Linked DNA regions of Homo sapiens. The protein of the gene in region 1 purifies or fractionates together with the protein of each later gene. This does not show direct contact. Each region holds a gene or a part of one and is shown in the gene's direction. Other genes may lie near its edges.

Region 1 (3,756 bases):
AAAATGAGAACCTAATTCAAGACAGGAGAAGACAGAAGAAACAGAAACTAGAAGATCCAAAACAGGACAGAAGTGAAATGAATCTCCAGGTGATGCTGAAGGATGATCCAAGGATGACAACTGAGCATAATGAACAACTAGTCCAGTAAGGAGCTGTTTGACTCAAGAGACAGAGATTTTGAAGGATATCATTAGCAATCCTCTTAACATTGTATCATCTTTTCAATCATATGAACCTATTGGAGGATGTGTTCTAGTAATGCCATAGAGTAAACTGAAAAAGGGCAAGTTATAAAATCCCAGAAATAGCAAACACATCCAGAATAAAAGGCAAAGAATTCCAAGAATGACAGCAAAGAAAAAAATCCAGAATGATAGCTGTGCAGTAGGCACAGAAAGCAACCACCCAATTTAAAGAAAAATTGAAGTCTCAGGAGGAATGGAAATGACTATGGGGAAAATTGCACTGACAGGCAATTGTATCTGTGGGATGAATAAGTGATAGGGATAAAAAAAATCAAGTAAATGAAAAGGCAAGATAATTATTAAAATCACAAAAAAATTGAAAAAGAAAACATAATTAATACACAATAATGTTCCCAATATATGGTAAGTAAAAGAAAATCTAAAATACCTAAAATGTAATCTAACATAATAAACAGTCAATTGATAATTTCTAAAATTAATTAATCAAAATATATCAGAAAACAGATTAGTGACTGAAGAGATAACTAAAAGAGTTTTAAAATGGCTACCTCTTAGAAGGGGAACTAAGAAAAGTGAGGAGGAAAAGGGCAGAACAAGCCTCTTAGTGCTATTTAATTTTGGACCAAGGTCATATATTATTTTGAAAAAAATGCATTTCAAAATATCAGTAAAGTAGAGCTCTTGCAAGTCTCACCAAGAATAAAAAGGAGTTAAAATGCTAAACATCACTAATAAAAATAGGGATACAATTAAAGGTAAATAACGCAATGAAAACAATTCCAAGAAATTTGCAAACTAGATAAAATGATTTTCAAAATAAAATGCAAGTTACTTAAAAATACAAAACCTGAACAGATTAATAACCAAAGGTAAAATGTAAATGGTAGTCACTGATCTACTGCAAGTGAAGTCACCAAACCCAACCAGTTTAAAAGACAAGCTGGAATTAAGCATGTAGAAACATATAATAATATAATTATTAAAACTATTGTATAAAATAGATAAAAAGCTCCCTAACACATTCTATGATGCCAGTATAATAGTTTAATACCAAGGCCATAAAAGGCAAACACGCACTAGGTAAACAACATTAACTAGAAAAATCCTAAAACCATGTTGACACATCATATCTATCTGTGCACTAAAACAATAATACATTATGGTTAAATGTCATTTATATCAATAACTCAGTAATTTAGAAACTAAAGAATAAATGTATTATTTCAACAGCTATCAAAAATCACTTCAAAATATGAAAGAATAAAAAGAAAACTTTATTGATTCAAAAAAGGAATATTTACCCCAAATTGAGATCAACCATCATAGTTGAAGATGAAATGCTAGAAGCACTTCCACAAATGCAAGATTGACCAACTTGCTACTACTAATTTTAAGAGTATTCATTGGACATTGGAGATTCTAGTCACTGAAATTATAGAGGAACAATAATTTCTTATGTAATACTTAAATCAGGTGAAGGATGAAGGTTGGGTTTGGGGGAGGCATAAAGTGTTCCAAGAAATATCACAGGTAAAGAGTTAAGACCTGGAAAGTGGAATAATTGTTTAATTCACAAGAAATTGGGAAAAGGGTCAATTATTCTGCCATATTCACATTATTATTGTTAAATACTTTACAAATAAATAAAATGTCCCCAACCAATATTTGTTGACTTCAAGGAGGAGGTTTCATTTTCTCATATATATTTTTACTATCCATTTTTAAAATAGGAGATTTTCTTAGGATTTCGGTGGGGAGTCAGAGTTTAGTTTCATGCTCCTAGATTTAAGAAGACTATAAATTAATTCTTCTACGAATCCAGATTATCACAGGGGAAAACGACATCAGCTATTACTTACTAGCATTACTGTGACCATTTGAGGATAAAGATGGAATGAAACAGCAAAGATACCGGGGACAAATCATTCTTGTTGCAGAATTCCTTCAATCCGCCATCTTTTTGTTCTAGTCTTGATAACGGGAATAACATCCACAAAACGCAAGGTGGCGCTGCTGGCTAAAAAGAGAGAGAGAAAAATAATTTCACAAAGAAAGGATGTTACAGATTCCAGAGCAAAGAGGCAATCTGAAGAGAAAAGCATAGGAAAGGAAACAGTGGTAATAGGAATTGGGGTAAAATGAGGATCCTTCCCCACAAACATTGCTATTATTCAGCTCATTTCAAAGGATTCCGCTGCTGCCATTTGTGAGAGCCGCTGGAGGCTGAGTGAAAGTCATTTTGAAAGACTGATCCAAAGAAGAATGGAGGCCAGAGTGGAGCGTGCTGTGCAGAAAAGGCAAGTCTTATTTCTTTGTGTATTTCTGGGAATGTCTTGGGCTGGCGCCGAACCGCTTCGGTATTTTGTGGCGGAGGAAACCGAGAGAGGCACCTTTCTTACCAACTTGGCAAAAGACCTAGGGTTAGGGGTAGGGGAACTGAGAGCCCGGGGAACTAGAATTGTTTCAGACCAGAACATGCAAATTTTACTGCTCAGTTCGCTTACTGGTGATCTACTTCTAAATGAGAAATTGGACCGAGAGGAACTGTGTGGCCCCAGAGAGCCCTGTGTGCTGCCTTTCCAGTTGTTATTGGAAAAACCTTTTCAGATTTTCCGTGCTGAACTATGGGTCAGAGACATCAATGATCACGCTCCAGTATTTCTAGACAGAGAGATTTCCTTGAAAATATTAGAAAGTACCACTCCAGGGGCGGCATTTCTCCTAGAGAGTGCACAGGATTCAGATGTTGGAACCAACAGCCTGAGTAACTACACCATCAGCCCCAATGCCTATTTCCATATTAATGTCCATGATAGCGGGGAGGGGAATATCTATCCCGAATTGGTGCTGAATCAAGTGCTGGATCGGGAAGAGATACCAGAGTTCAGTTTAACCCTCACCGCTTTAGACGGCGGCTCTCCTCCAAGATCAGGGACCGCCCTCGTGCGCATTCTGGTTCTAGACGTAAATGACAACGCCCCTGATTTTGTGCGGTCGCTCTACAAGGTGCAGGTGCCCGAAAATAGCCCCGTTGGTTCCATGGTTGTCTCCGTGTCAGCCAGAGATTTAGATACCGGAAGTAATGGGGAAATAGCCTATGCATTTTCTTACGCCACTGAAAGAATTCTCAAAACGTTTCAAATCAATCCAACATCTGGCAGTCTTCATCTTAAAGCGCAATTGGACTATGAGGCAATTCAAACTTACACATTAACTATTCAGGCCAAAGACGGCGGCGGGCTTTCTGGAAAATGCACTGTAGTGGTTGATGTAACAGATATAAACGATAATCGACCCGAGCTGCTCCTGTCTTCACTTACTAGCCCAATTGCAGAAAACTCACCCGAGACAGTCGTGGCTGTTTTTAGGATTAGAGACAGAGATTCCGGGAACAATGGAAAGACAGTGTGCTCCATCCAGGACGATGTCCCCTTCATCCTGAAGCCATCTGTCGAAAACTTCTATACTCTGGTAACAGAGAAACCTTTGGATCGAGAGAGGAACACTGAGTACAACATCACCATCACCGTCACCGACTTGGGGACACCC
Region 2 (3,756 bases), on another chromosome or scaffold:
TCAAGAAAAATTTTACATGGCATCTAAATTGGAAAGGAAGAAATAAAACTATCTCCATTCACAGATGGCATGATCTTATTTGTAGAAAGTCTTAATCCACAAAGAAACTATTAGAGCTAATGAAAGTTTACAAAATTGTGAGAAACAAAATCAACATATGAAAATCAGTTGTATGTCTATATCCTAGCAATGAACAATCTGAAAAGGAAATTAAGAAAACAATTCCATTTACAAAAGCATCAGAAAGATTTAAATACTTAGGAATAAATTTAATCAAGGAGGTGCAAGACTTGGATGCTGAAAACTATAAAGCATAAGTTAAATAAATAAATCAAAAGACATCCCATGTTCATGGATTGGGAGACATTATTGTTAGAATGTCAGTACTCCCTAAATTGATCTACGGATTCAGTGCAATCCCTATAAAAATTTTAATTATCATTTCTGCAGAAATGGACAAGGCGATCCTATAATTCATACAGAACTGCAAGAGACCCTGAATACCAAAACAATCTTGAAATAGAAGCACAAAATTAGAAGACTCACACTACACAATTTAAAAACTTACCGCAAAGCTACAGTAGTTAAATTACAAGGATAGACACCTAGATCAATGGATTCAAATTGAGATTCCAGAAATAAACCCATATTATCTATGGTCAGTTGATGGTTTTGTTTTGTTTTGTTCTGAGACAGAGTTTCACTCTTTTTGCCCAGGCTGGAGTGCAATGGCACGATCTCGGCTCACTGCAACCTCCACCTCCTGGGTTCAAGTGATTCTTCTGCCTCAGCCTCCCAAGTAGCTGGGAATACAGGCACGTGCCACCATACCCGGCTAATTTTGTATTTTTAGAGTAGAGACAAGGTTTCACCATGTTGGCCAGGCTGGTCTTGAACTCCTGACATCAGGTGATCCACCCACCTCAGCCTCCCAAAGTGCTGAGATTACAGGTGTGAGCCACCACGCCTGGCCATGATTTTTGACAAGGGCGTCAAAACCATTCAGTGGAGGAAAGAATAGTCTTTTCAACAATGATGGTGGAAGAACTGAATAGCCACATACATAAAAGCATAAAGGTGGTCCCTTACCTCATACCATATATCCCAATTAATTTAAAAATCAATCAAGGACCTAAATGGAAGAGTTAAAACTACAGAACTCTTAGAAGAAAGCATAGGGACAAATCATCATCACCTTGAATTTAGCAGTGGTCTCATAAATTATAACACCAAAAGTACAAGCAGCAAAAGAAAAATCAGGTAAATGGACTTTATCAAAGTTAAAATATTTTATGCATCAGAGGACATTGTCAAGAGGCAGAAATAGATTTGGGATTGCCAGGGATTGAGGAGGCAAGGGAGATGGGGAGTGACTACTTAATAGGTATGAAGTTTCTTGTGGGGATGATGAAAATGTCCTGGAATTACATTGTGGCGATGGTTGCACAACTCTGTGAATATATTAAAAATTATTGAATTGTATACTTCAAAATGCTTTAAACTGTGAACCTTGTTATTTGAATTTTACCTCAATGTAAAAAACCAACATTCTTCAAAGTAAGATTAATTAGGTATTCACATAATGAATTTCCTGAATTAGTATCCATATAAAATACTTTTGAACAAATCCAAGAAAACTTTAAGGGGGAAAAAATCTTTTCACCATATATCCATACAGTCATTAAAAGTATATACATTCAAAATATAAGCATATAATTATGTTTATATTTTGATTTATACCCATCTAGGTCTTTTAAAAACTGTTTTTATTATGGTTATTTTAAAATATTTCAGTCGGTTTTTGGAATGGCAGTCAGGAAGCCTAGTGTTTTTGATTTTTGTTTTTGTTTAGAGACAGGGTCTTGCTCTGTTGCCCAGGCTGGAGTGCAGTGGTAGGATGATAGCTTCATTGTAACCTCAAACTCCTGGCCTTAAGCAATCCTCTTGCCTCAGCCTCCAAAGTAACTAGGACTACAGGTGCACACAACCACACCCAGCTAATTTTTAAATCTTTATTATTATTGTTTTATAGAGAGAGGGTCTCGTTGTGTTGCCCAGGCTAGTCTCGAACTACTGGCCTCAAGTGATCCTCCTGCCTTGGCCTCCCAAACTGCTGGGATTATAGCCATGAGCCACTGTGCCTGGGCAGGAAGGCCAGTGTTTAAAGCAGCAGTGTATCTAATGCTTCACAGGGATCTAGTGTAATGTAATGGAGAAATCTTTGTTGATTAGTGAAATTGTTATGTATTATAGGGTCTTCTTATTTGAAGGATGATGAAATGGTATGATTTGCATTTTCTATAACTGAAGAACGTTTTTGTCCCCACTTAACGATAGCTACCTGCCATCACTTTTGTTTAATGCTTGGTCTTGTACGTTTATCAATAATTTCTCTCCTCTTGCTGAGATAAGCACTAATTATTAGAAATATAATGCAAGCCACATATGTAACTTTAAATTTTCTAGTAGCCACATTTAAAAAGTAAAAAGAAATAGGTGAAATTAATCTGAATAATGTTTTATTTAGCTATATTCAAAATATTAATTTTTTTTTTTTTTTGAGACGGAGTCTCACTCTGTCACCCAGGCTGGAGTGCAGTGGTGCAATCTTGGCTCACTGCAAGCTCCGTCTCCCAGGTTCATGCCATTCTCCTGCCTCAGCCTCTCAAGTAGCTAGGACTACAGGCACCCGCCACTGCGCCCAGCTAATTTTTTGTATTTTTTTTAGTAGAGACAGGGTTTCACCGTGGTCTCGATCTCCTGACCTCGTGATCCGCCCGCCTCGGCCTCCCAAAGTGCTGGGATTACAGGCATGAGCCACCGCGCCCGGCCCAAAATATTAAACTATTTTAACATATAGTCAGTACTTTTCTAAAATCTGTTAATGAAGAACTTTACATTCTTCTAAGTCTTCAAAATTCGTTGTGCATTTTTACACTTGCATCACATCTCAATTCAGACGCATCACATTTCAAGTGCTCAATAACCACATGTGGCTAATGCCTAGAATACTGGACAGTGCCGTCTTAGATAATCACAACTAGGATATTGTCTGTAGAAGAGATGGATTTGTTATTTCTGGGAATGGAATAACAACATTTTGTTTCTCTTTGTGGCCCCAAAACAAGCATTAGTTTATTAGCCAGGTGTTGACTTAAAAGATACAAAGAAAAGCCTCTGTGTTTTAGTGGGGTGAAGAAAAGAAAACTTGGCATAAGCATAGTTTTGAGGAATGAGAATAGGAGTGTAGGAGGAAGGACCTGAATTCAGAACAAGGGAAGTTATACTGCATAATATTGTGGATAAGTCCATGTGTGGATGGGACAGCATGCAGAGGGGAGTACTCAGATTTGGGGAAAATGTCTAGTCCTGGACTATGTTTCTGAGTCAGATGTTAAAAGTGCCTAGTTGGCCAAGGGACTATCTTCCCAATCTTCACCCTCCCCATACCTGCCCCATGAAATGGATGTCATAAATTATATAGCGACTAAAAGCAGGTATGATCAACCGGGCATGGTGGCTCACGCCTGTAATCCCAGCACTTTGGAAAGCTGAGGCAGGTGGATCACCTGAGATCAGGAGTTCTAGACCAGCCTAGCCAACATGTTGAAACCCCATCTCTACTAAAAATACAAAAATTAGCCGGGCGTGGTGCTGCATGCCTGTAATCCCAGCTACTCGGGAGGCTGAGGCAGGAGAATTGCTTGAACCCAGGAGGCCCAGGTTTCAGTGAGCCAAGATTGGGCCATTGCACTC
Region 3 (3,756 bases), on another chromosome or scaffold:
CTTGATTTTTCTCTATTGTTTTTTGTTCGATTACTCTTCTCTTTATCATTTCTTTCCTTTACTTACTTTGGGGTTTAATTTACTCTTTTTTTTCCCCAGATTTTATGATGGAAGCAAAGATCATTGATTTTTTTTTTTTTTGGTCAAAGTTTGGCTTTTATTTTTCCAGATCTTTTTATTTTATTTTATTTATTTATTTTTTTTGAGACAGAGTCTTGCTCTGTTGTCCAGGCTGGAGTACAGTGGCATGCTCTTGGCTCACTGCAACTCCCCCTCCCATTTCCAGCAATCCTTCTGCCTCAGCCTTCTGAGTAACTGGGATTACAGATGTGTGCCACCACACCTGGCTAATTTTTGTATTTTTAGTAGTGACGGGGTTTTGCCATGTTGGCCAGGCTGGTCTCGAACTCCTGACCTCAAGTGATCCATCTGCCTCATCCTCCCAAAGTGCTGGGATTACAGGCATGAGCCACCACGCCTGGCTTAGATCTTTTTGAATCCAGGTAATATATGTGGACAAACAAAAATAGCTTCATTGTTAAAAATATAAATAAGAACATAATATATAGATTTTCTGCAACTTGCTTTTTCCACTTAAGTTATGAGGGGGGATATTTCTATGGCTGTATATAAAATTCTATGCCATTTCTTTCAAATGGTACATAGTATTCTGCAGCAACTATTTCCATACTGACAGACATTTAGGTTCTTCAGCTATTTCACTAATACAAACCATACTACAGTGAACATCCTTACAAATGAGAAGGCTTCTAGATAGCGGTGCACTTATTAAATATCTCCTCTTTGATGGTCAGAAGAAATAAACTACTTTTGCATGTTTACCACACTACATTTGATGACCCATTCTTTTTAAAAATGTTATTTTTTAGTAATTTTTATCTTTTGTAGAGATGGGGTCTCACTATGTTGCCCAGTCTGGTCTTGAACTCATGGGCTCAAGTGGTCCTCCCACCTCATCTTCCCAAAGTGCTGGGATTATAGGCATGAGCCACCATGCCTGGCTTGATGACTTTGTTATAAATTTTCTTATGTTGTTTAAGGGCTGAACTTTGGGGAAAAGCTTCCCACATTCATTACATTCATAAGATATGGATTTTCTGATTTTCAGCAAGGCCTTGGCTGTACCCGAAGGCTTTCCCACATTTCTTATAGTGAAAGGTTTTTGGTTTTTTGTTTTTTTTTCCCCCCAGTATGAATTCCTTGATGTCCAATAAGAGTTGAGCTCTTTGTAAAGGCTTTCCTACAGTCATTGCCCTGATAGGGTTTATTTCCACTATGAGTTTTCTGATGCCCAGCAAAGGAGATTTGCCCAGCAAATCTTTCTATACCTGAAAAAGATTTCACATTTAATATGGTGATAGAGTTTCTCTCCTGTATGAAATCTTTGATGACTAATAAGAGTCAAGCTCTTACTAAAGGCTTTTCTGTATTTATTACACCAATGTACTTTTTCACTAAGATGGTTTTTCTGATGCTCCAACAAAGTTGAGTTATCTCTGAAAGCTTTCCCACATTCCTTACATTTAAAAGGCTTTTTTTTTTCAGCCAGGCGCAGTGGCTCACACCTGTAATCCCAACACTTTGGGAAGCGAAGGTCAGGGGATTGCTTGAACCCAGGAGTTCAAGAGCAGCCTGGGCAACATAGGGAGACCCCATCTCTGACAAAAAGTTAAAAAATTAGCCAGACACAGTGATGCTCACCTGTAGTCCTAGCATCTTGGGAGGCTGAGTCAGGAGGATTGCTTGGGCCCGAAGGTCAAGGCTGCATCGAGTCATGATGTGCCACTGCTCTCCAGCCTGGGCAATAGAGTGGGAACCTGTCTCTAAATAAATAAATAAATAAATAAATAAATAAATAAATAAATGTTTTTAAAAGGCTTATCTCCACTGTGTTTTCTCTCCTGATGAGTAACGACTGCCTTCTGAACAGTTTCCCACAGTCGTGTTTGTAGAGTTCCTGACTGTATGAATTCTCTGATGACTTGAAAGGACAGTTTTGACCAGGCGTGGTGGCTCACGCCTTGCTCTGCAGTGACAGAGTGAGACTCCTTCTCAAAAAAAAAAAAAAAAAGAAAGGGCTGTTTTTTTCTGAAAGCTTTTTCACGTTTATTGGTATTTCTCTCTAGAATAAGTTCTCTGATGATTAATAAATGTTGAGTGCTTGAGGAATTTGCCACATTCAGTACATCTGTAAAGTTGCTCGCCTGTGTGAGCTTATGATGATTTGAAAGGGGTGATAGTAGGATAGTCTGCTCATGAAGACTATTCCACATTCTTTATATTTATGGGGTTTCTCACTAGTATGATTGCTCTGGTGGCTAAAAGAGGAAGAGTTGTATTCGAATTGTACTTTCCCACATTCTTTTCATTTATAGCACCGCATCTCTGTGGAACCTCCTCCCTCTCAATCCAGGCCTCTTTCTATCATGACACTTTTTGTTTGCTCTTGCAGAACTTCAGAGTATTTTGCTTTAGGGTTAAGATCTTTGTTTCAAACCAGTACTCCTGGACTGCAGAGGTACCTGACGCAGTTCTGACGCCTCCATCCAGGCTCCTTGCTGCAGTTGGGTGATTAGTTTTGGTTTGAAAGAGAGAAACCCACAGGCACAAGATTCCCATAGTTTTCCAGCATCACATGGCTGTACAGGTCCTGTTAAGTGTATTATTAGGTTATCTCCATTCGACCTGGGTGCAGGCCACAGCCACATCCCCAGATGTTAGTGATCCCTGGATTTGGGCCATCTGTCTCCTGAACTGTCTCCCAGATAAGAGCAGAGAACCCTGTGTATGCTAATAGTTATGGAGGCTAGAAATCCAAAATCAAGGTGTTAGAAGGGTTGATGTCTTTGGAGACTGGAGGTGGAATTCCTTCCTTGCCTCCCCCTAGCTTCTAGTGGTTGCTGTCAATCCTGGCTTTCCTTGGCTTGCAGCCGTATTGCTCCAATCTCTGCCTCTGTCATCACATGTCGTTTTCTCCATGTGTCTCTCTAAATCATTGATTTTATAGACTTTTCTTCTCTGAAATAAGCATTTAAAATTACGAATGTCCCTCTAGACATTGCTTTAACTGTATCCCACACATTTTTATATATTGTGTTATTTTCATTCTGTTCAAAATATTTTCTAATTTCCCTCATGCAGTTTCAACCTATACCTTAGTAAATCAGTGTTCAGCCAAAACTGAAGGTGACTACTGTTCAGATTTCTGAAGCTCTTTCTCTGTGTAGCTTCCTCCTTTCTGGTACTTTGTTTAAACATTCTAACTACCAGTCACCCTGAACTCCGTCTCCTCAATTTAGCAACTGCCCTGTTATGCTTGCCTTCTTCTTGCCTGTGCCACAGTCTGGAGCATGCCTCCAGCAGAAAGCCAAGGGATTCATAGAGCTCACCTGGTTTGTTTCCTTTCAGGGATCATAGTCCTGCACTGCCTGTTGTCCAGTGTCTAAAAACAGTTGCTTTATATATTTTGTCTAGTTTTCTAGTTATTCATGGTGGGAAGGCAAGCCCCATAGCAATTCCTTCTTCAAGAGCAGAAGTGGAAGTTGTATTGCATTTTTAAAAATTAAATAATATATCAGCTTAGAAAAAAGCACAGATAATTTTCATCTGTGTTGACCTCTTAAGTATGAGAAAATAGTTATGAGAAGAATGAAGGAAAATTGATATAAAGGTAAAAATAGTAGTTACTGATAAAACAATTTGATTTCAACAAAGTCTGTTCACTCAGTTAGCTGT

What was found.
Region 2: the proteins of PCDHB7 (region 1) and ST7L purify together in Homo sapiens (affinity purification with mass spectrometry; 2 studies listed by BioGRID and IntAct, with this or other methods). This does not show direct contact.
Region 3: the proteins of PCDHB7 (region 1) and KIAA0319L purify together in Homo sapiens (affinity purification with mass spectrometry; 2 studies listed by BioGRID and IntAct, with this or other methods). This does not show direct contact.

What each region holds. Positions count from the first base shown.
Region 1 is NC_000005.10:141,170,367-141,174,122, forward strand, and holds the start of PCDHB7 (protocadherin beta-7 precursor), read left to right. Parts: upstream 1-2,277; 5' UTR 2,278-2,469; coding exon 2,470-3,756. UniProt on the Homo sapiens protein: Potential calcium-dependent cell-adhesion protein. May be involved in the establishment and maintenance of specific neuronal connections in the brain.
Region 2 is NC_000001.11:112,584,537-112,588,292, reverse strand, and holds part of ST7L (suppressor of tumorigenicity 7 protein-like), read left to right. Parts: intron 1-3,756.
Region 3 is NC_000001.11:35,508,716-35,512,471, reverse strand, and holds part of KIAA0319L (dyslexia-associated protein KIAA0319-like protein), read left to right. Parts: intron 1-3,756.